Regions from separate parts of the Homo sapiens genome. Here region 2 is linked to region 1. Evidence: fine-mapped expression QTL. A gene starts in region 1. The other region holds a variant in brackets. All regions are shown on one strand. Distances are between the middles of the regions.

Region 1 (2,924 bases):
GCAGTGAGCCGTGATTGTACCACTGCACTCCAGCCTGGGTGACAGAGTAAGACCTTGTCTCTAGAAAACAAATTCCTTTTAGTGATCTAACTACATTTTCATTTCTCTCTAATTTCTAAAGAGAAAGTTTTCTTCTGAAAAAAAAATAAGCACTTTGTTTTTAGTCATCAGCTCTCCAAAATTAAGAGACTGATGACCCAGCATACATATTTATCTTTTTTGCTTTTGGACTTTGTCATTTACTGTCTACCAAAAAGAGTAAGCAGAAGAAATAAAGATTCGCAACTAAAACACCTGTAGACACATCCACCCACCCACCCACATACATATGCCTGTATATGGGAATGAAGAAACACATATGTATATGTATACACACACACAGTCATACACACACACACACACACACGCAATCTGTATCTTCTTTTTACTTAGATACGGATAATGAGGAACAAGGTCTGAAGATGTCTGTATTTCAGTGTGCCAGGTAGTCACCCCTTCTCCCCATCAATAATGTACTTCACCTTCTCAATTAAAAAGACAAGTAAATGGTGCATACCTATAGTCCCAGCTACTCTGGGATTATATAGTCCTGTTGAGCTGGGGTATCGCTTGAGCCCAGGAGTTTGAGGCTGCAGTGAGCTATGGTTACAGCACTGCACTGTAGCCTAGGTGACAGAGTGAGACCTTCTCTCCGGGGGGTGTTGGGGAAAGAAGTCATGTTCTTACCTAAAAACAATTTTTTCCCACTACCTTCAGCGTCCATTCCCCTCTAAGAAAATTACGTTTCCTAACTTTTTTCTGTTCCTGACACTGTCTTTAGGCTCTACCACTACTTCTTTCACTACTTTTTTTTTTCTTTTTAGACAAAATCACATAGCTATGCAGGGAAATAGACTTGGATGATTAAACATCATGATCCGTGATTCCCAGAAACAAACAAACTGCCTGAATTATATCATTCTCATTCTAGCCATATTTGGTATAAAACTACAGCATGCTCCTTCTTCATTTACCCATCCCACCCTCAACCCTTTACTATATCACCTTTTATTCTTTTTCTTTTCTTTTTTTTTTTGAGACGGAGTTTCGCTTTTATCCAGGTTGGAGTACAATGGTGTGATCTCGGCTCACTGCAACCTCTGCCTCCCAGATTCAAGTGATTCTCCTGCCTCAGCCTCCCAAGTAGCTGGGATTACAGGCATGCACCACTACGCCTGGCTAATTTTTGTATCTTTGGTAGAGATTTGGTTTCACCATGTTGGTCAGGCTGGTCTCAAGCTCCTGACCTCAGGTGATCCACCCGCCTCAGCCTCCTACCTTTTTAATTTTCCTACCCGTTCTTTGTCTTCTTTTCTTCTGTGTGTCTACGTCCTGTCCAACCGTCTGGGCAGTTTGAAAGAGAAAATGTTCTAGTGAGCCTACATATTAGGAAGATTGTTGAAAAATGGGAGGAGCTGCTCTTAAAGAGATACTCATTTATTGGTCCTTGAATGGGTGAGCACACGCCAACCCTCTGTGATGGATGGGACTGTAGGCCAGTCTCCCATGGCCACCCAGTTTCTACTTTTCCTTTGATTATGGTAAACACAAGCTGCTGGTTATACTCTTGGACCCTTGGCCTGGGAGTCAAGTAGTTTCTCCCAGGTGACTTTGCAGTTCTGTACTCCATTTTATTATGTGTTATTTGAAAGTTTACCTTGTTTTCCTTATTCCTAGTTCTTTTGTGGGTAGCTCATAGTAGTCCTCCAAATACTGTAGAAACTTAGCTACTTAATTGAGATAGCCCAATAAGGAGGATGACTTTTCTCTGCTCTCTCTTTTCATGTCCTGTCTTGGAATTTTGGGGTCAAAGGCCTGTATTTCTCAAGCTTATATTTACTTGTTTCTGAGTACAGTGTGTGGTCACAGAAAAGATCAAAATTCCACAAATTGATCTATTAGTACCAGGAACCAGGTAAAATTAGTACCAGGTAAAATTATGTTGGCAGTTAGACAAAATAAACTGCACCTAACTCCCAGTCATGAAATATAGTAGAATTTCAAAAAAAGTTTTCCTATCAACTATATTTTGATGTCACTTAGAATTATAACATCTCACTCATTTTGTCTAGTTAACTCCTTCATTAAGCAAGTGATACTTAGTGTAAACTGGTATATGTCTAATTTTGAGGAATTACCCTTCATGCCTTTTGAAGACAGTAATCTTCATCTCTGAAGTGTGAGTATGAGAGATTCCAAATCACTTCTATAGCTCTGTGGCCTTGGGCAAATCACTTAACCTTTCCAATCGTTGATTTACTCATTAATAAAATAGGGATAACTACACTATTAATTCCTGTCTGGCTATTTTTTTTTTAACAAGGATTAGAGGATTAAAGGGTATGTACACATAAATACATGTATACATAGGTACATATAAAATGTGGCATGTAGTTAAAAATGAGCAAATGTGACTTGTAGATAAAAATTAAAAACAAGTCATAGGTTCATGAAATTTTCTAGGGCTGCAATTCAGACAACATGATTTTCTCTGCTCTCATTTTACATAGAACTTCTTTTCAGTTTTTAATGCTACATAAATAGAATTAAAATAATGCAAAGAAAAGATTGTGACTACTTCAGGAAGCAATACTACTCCTATAGCCTTATTCATTTAAAGATTGGCAGGACACACCCAATTCTACCTTGGCCTCCGATGTTTTATCTCTCTAGGAGGTGAAAAGGCCACCTATTCTTTGCTGTCCTTCACAAGAATGTATCTGAAGTCGACACATTTATTAGTCCTGTCTCTCTCTAGCCTATCCTTTGCTTGCCACAGCTTTCTGCAGAGCCCCTTTTTAAATCTTCAGAATCTCAAATGCCCAGGCTCTGGTTGGGGCAGTGGGCATTCTCTACTCTGTTGTCCCCTCCAAATCACAAAACTG
Region 2 (2,924 bases), 20 kb before region 1:
TGGTTTGAGCCTCCCTCCTGTCTTGTGTTTCCCACTGCTGGCTCAACATTCTTCTACCAGAATGTCTAATAGGCATTCCAACTTTAATATGTCTAAAACTGAACTTCTGTTCCTCCTGCAGTTTTTCACATTTTAGTAAACGTCAATGTCATCCTTTTTCAAATATCTTGAAGACATTCTTACTCCCTCCTTGCTCTCTCATCCTCTATCCAGTCCACAGAAAATCCTATTTGGGTCGACCTTCAAGCTATCCAGAAATCTGCCCAATTCTGACCACTCACTGCTAACAATTTTGGTCCAGACCAACATCCCCTCTGATTCAGGTTTTTGAGAGTAGCTTTTTAACTGGTCCTTTCACTTCCTTCCTTGCCCTACCCTTACATTGAATGATGACCACAGCAGCCGATCAATCTCTGCAATGCTAATTTAGGTCTTGTAATTCATTTGCTCAGATGCCTGCTGTAGTTTCCCATTGCTTTCAGAGTAAAAGCCAGAGTCCTTACAATGATCTACAAGGCCCACGCCATCCAACAATTTTTATGTCTCTGGTTTTATCTCCTGGCATTCTCCCCTCATTCTCTTTTCTCAAGGAAGAGAAGCCCCATTGTTGTTTGTTGATCATGCCAGCCCTGCCCGTAAATGCCCTGGCTGTGTCCTCAGTCTGGAATACCCTTCCCCTGAGACCCTCATGGCTCATTCCCTCAACTCCTTCAGAGGTTTTCTTAAAAGTCTCCTCCCTGAGACATACTCTGAGGACTCTATTGGAAATTGTCCTGACAGCACTTGCCATTACCTTTATCTGCTTTGTTTTCTTCCCCAAAGCACACATCGCCATATGATCTTATGCTATTGTTTGTCTGTTTCCCACCACTTAGAATGTAGGTTCCATGAGGACAGGGATTTTTGCATGTTTTGTCCACTACTATATCCACAGGGCTAAACACAGGATGTGGCATATAATAAACGTGTAATAAATGTTTGTCAAATTAATGAATTCACTTTGATGAAAACAGCTCGTAACTTGGGTTTTTCACCTCTTGTCAAAGTCATTTCTTGTTATGTTACTGGCTTGGAGGACGTTATAGGAGAAGATGGGAAGGAGACTGAAGATGCAAGCATTGGTAAGTATGTGTTTAGTGAGAGGGGGTCCATTAAGGGGTGGGTGATGAAACGAAGAGGGAAAGGTAGGACATGAAACGTTCTCCTGATGTGCTTAACTTTGCCATTAAGTGACAGGTAGTAGAGCAAGTGGCCAAGA[C/G]TGAGAGGCTCTAGAATCAGCAGATCTGGGTTTGTTTTGAACGCTGCTTCTACTTCCTGGCTGTGGGACCTTAGTAAAGTTATTAACTACACTGAAACGCAGTTATCTCATCTCTAAAATGGAGATACTAGTAGAGCTCTCTTCATAATTGTAAGGATAAAATGAAATAATATATGCCAGAGCCTTAGCAGAGTCTTGCTAAATCTCTGACATGTATAAAATGCTTAAAAGAGGTTAACTTTGATTATCATTACTCCCGGGACTAATTCCTGAGGCATTATATAATTTTCCAGCTGTGTAAATATAGTAAGGAGGATTGCAAAATAGGAAATCACTCTTAATTTGTGCAGTTCTTTATCTTCTGATATATGAGTTGTGATTGCTAATACTTTGATTTGTTTTGGGCTTACAGGACATTAAGGGTTGTTGACACTGAACTAAAAGCCAGCAGGCATATCACGTTTAGCTCTGCATTACCCATTTAAAGGCATCAAGCCATAGTTTTCATGCTTGAATCTTGCATTCATCTGCTTCACGTACAACCAGTCAGAGATGGCTGTCGGTAAATTGTTCTTGAGGAAGGTTCCAAATCGAGTGACGAGCAGCATGTCCCAAGGATAACCATTGTCCCAGACCCGGCTCATCACCCAGGAGCCACTTCTGGAACTGATCATGACCTTAAAAAACACCAATTCAACCATGAAATTAGTGACCATTTGTAGTGGATATTCTGGTGAGCACCCCAGATCCCTCTTGAGGAATGGATCTATTACCCCAGCTGCAGAAAGTGGTGTCAGAAGACATCTCTCAGCTGTCAGTCCTTTTTGACCATTGCTTTGGCTGAAGAGAGGGGCCTCACCCAACATCTTCTACTCTTTCTGAGTTTCCTCCATCTAGTGACTGGTCAATGCGGGCGTATAAAGGCCCAGTCCCTCACCTCAAATTGGGGCAATGCCAAAGGACCATCCCAGCTTCAAAGTAAATGGAAGCTTCCTTCCCTTCCTGTGGAAGTATTGATCCTGAGAGTGTTCCCAAATAAACGTCTGAACTTTACATCTACATCTTAGGGTCAGCCACCCTGTCACAGTGCTGCAGGCAAATTTTCATATTTTAATCAATCTCTGCTACAGGTGACTAATAACTGAATTCTAGTCACGTTTTCCCTAGCACTTATCTAACTATTGCTGTCTACAAATAAGCAATTATGATCTCAAAATAGGCATTTTAAAGCAAAATGCCTGCTACTATCTGGAAAGAAGGTGAGAAATTTGGAATCAGAAAACCATACGCTCAAACGCTGGCTCTCCTACTTATTAATGATGTGATTTGAAAAAATTCCTTTAACTTCTCTAATCTTGTTCCCTCATTCCTAAAATGGAGAGAATCGAATTTGCCTCATCAAATTTGTGTAAGCGTTAATTCGATGTGATAAACTATGTCACATGGCTAACGTTACCTGGCAGATAGTATGTGCTCAGTAAATGTCAGTTTCCTTTCCTTCCCCTTCTGTTATGCTAATCCATAATAGTGTAGTTTTCAGGCTTTCTTTGTCTTTTTTAAAACCAATTTTTATATGCCATATCACTTCAAGGCATTTGTTATAAGAGGAACTAGACAAGAAGAGACTAAAGGAGTCCGGGCATGGTGGCTCACGCCTATAATCCCA

Direction of the effects. Alleles are on the strand shown, and positions count from the first base shown. SD is a standard deviation of normalised expression in the study named.
For the expression in stomach of the gene that starts at base 1,394 in region 1, G is the high allele of the variant in region 2 and C is the other (moderate effect, 0.59 SD a copy in GTEx).

Evidence for each region. PIP is the estimated chance that this variant, and not a neighbour inherited with it, causes the effect.
Region 2: its variant is fine-mapped to the expression of FMO3 in stomach (GTEx, PIP 0.98). The same link has a PIP of 0.9 or more in transverse colon.

The regions. Positions count from the first base shown.
Region 1 is chr1:171,089,375-171,092,298 of GRCh38, reverse strand. It overlaps FMO3 (flavin containing dimethylaniline monoxygenase 3), which reads right to left and starts at 1,394. Exons shown (of 9, transcript NM_001002294.3): 1 at 1,318-1,394.
Region 2 is chr1:171,109,809-171,112,732 of GRCh38, reverse strand. It overlaps FMO3 (flavin containing dimethylaniline monoxygenase 3), which reads right to left. Exons shown (of 9, transcript NM_001002294.3): 6 at 1,736-1,935. Among named protein-coding and RNA genes, the nearest start is that of MIR1295A, 9.5 kb to the right of the region's middle. The variant C/G (reference allele first, on the strand shown) is at 1,259.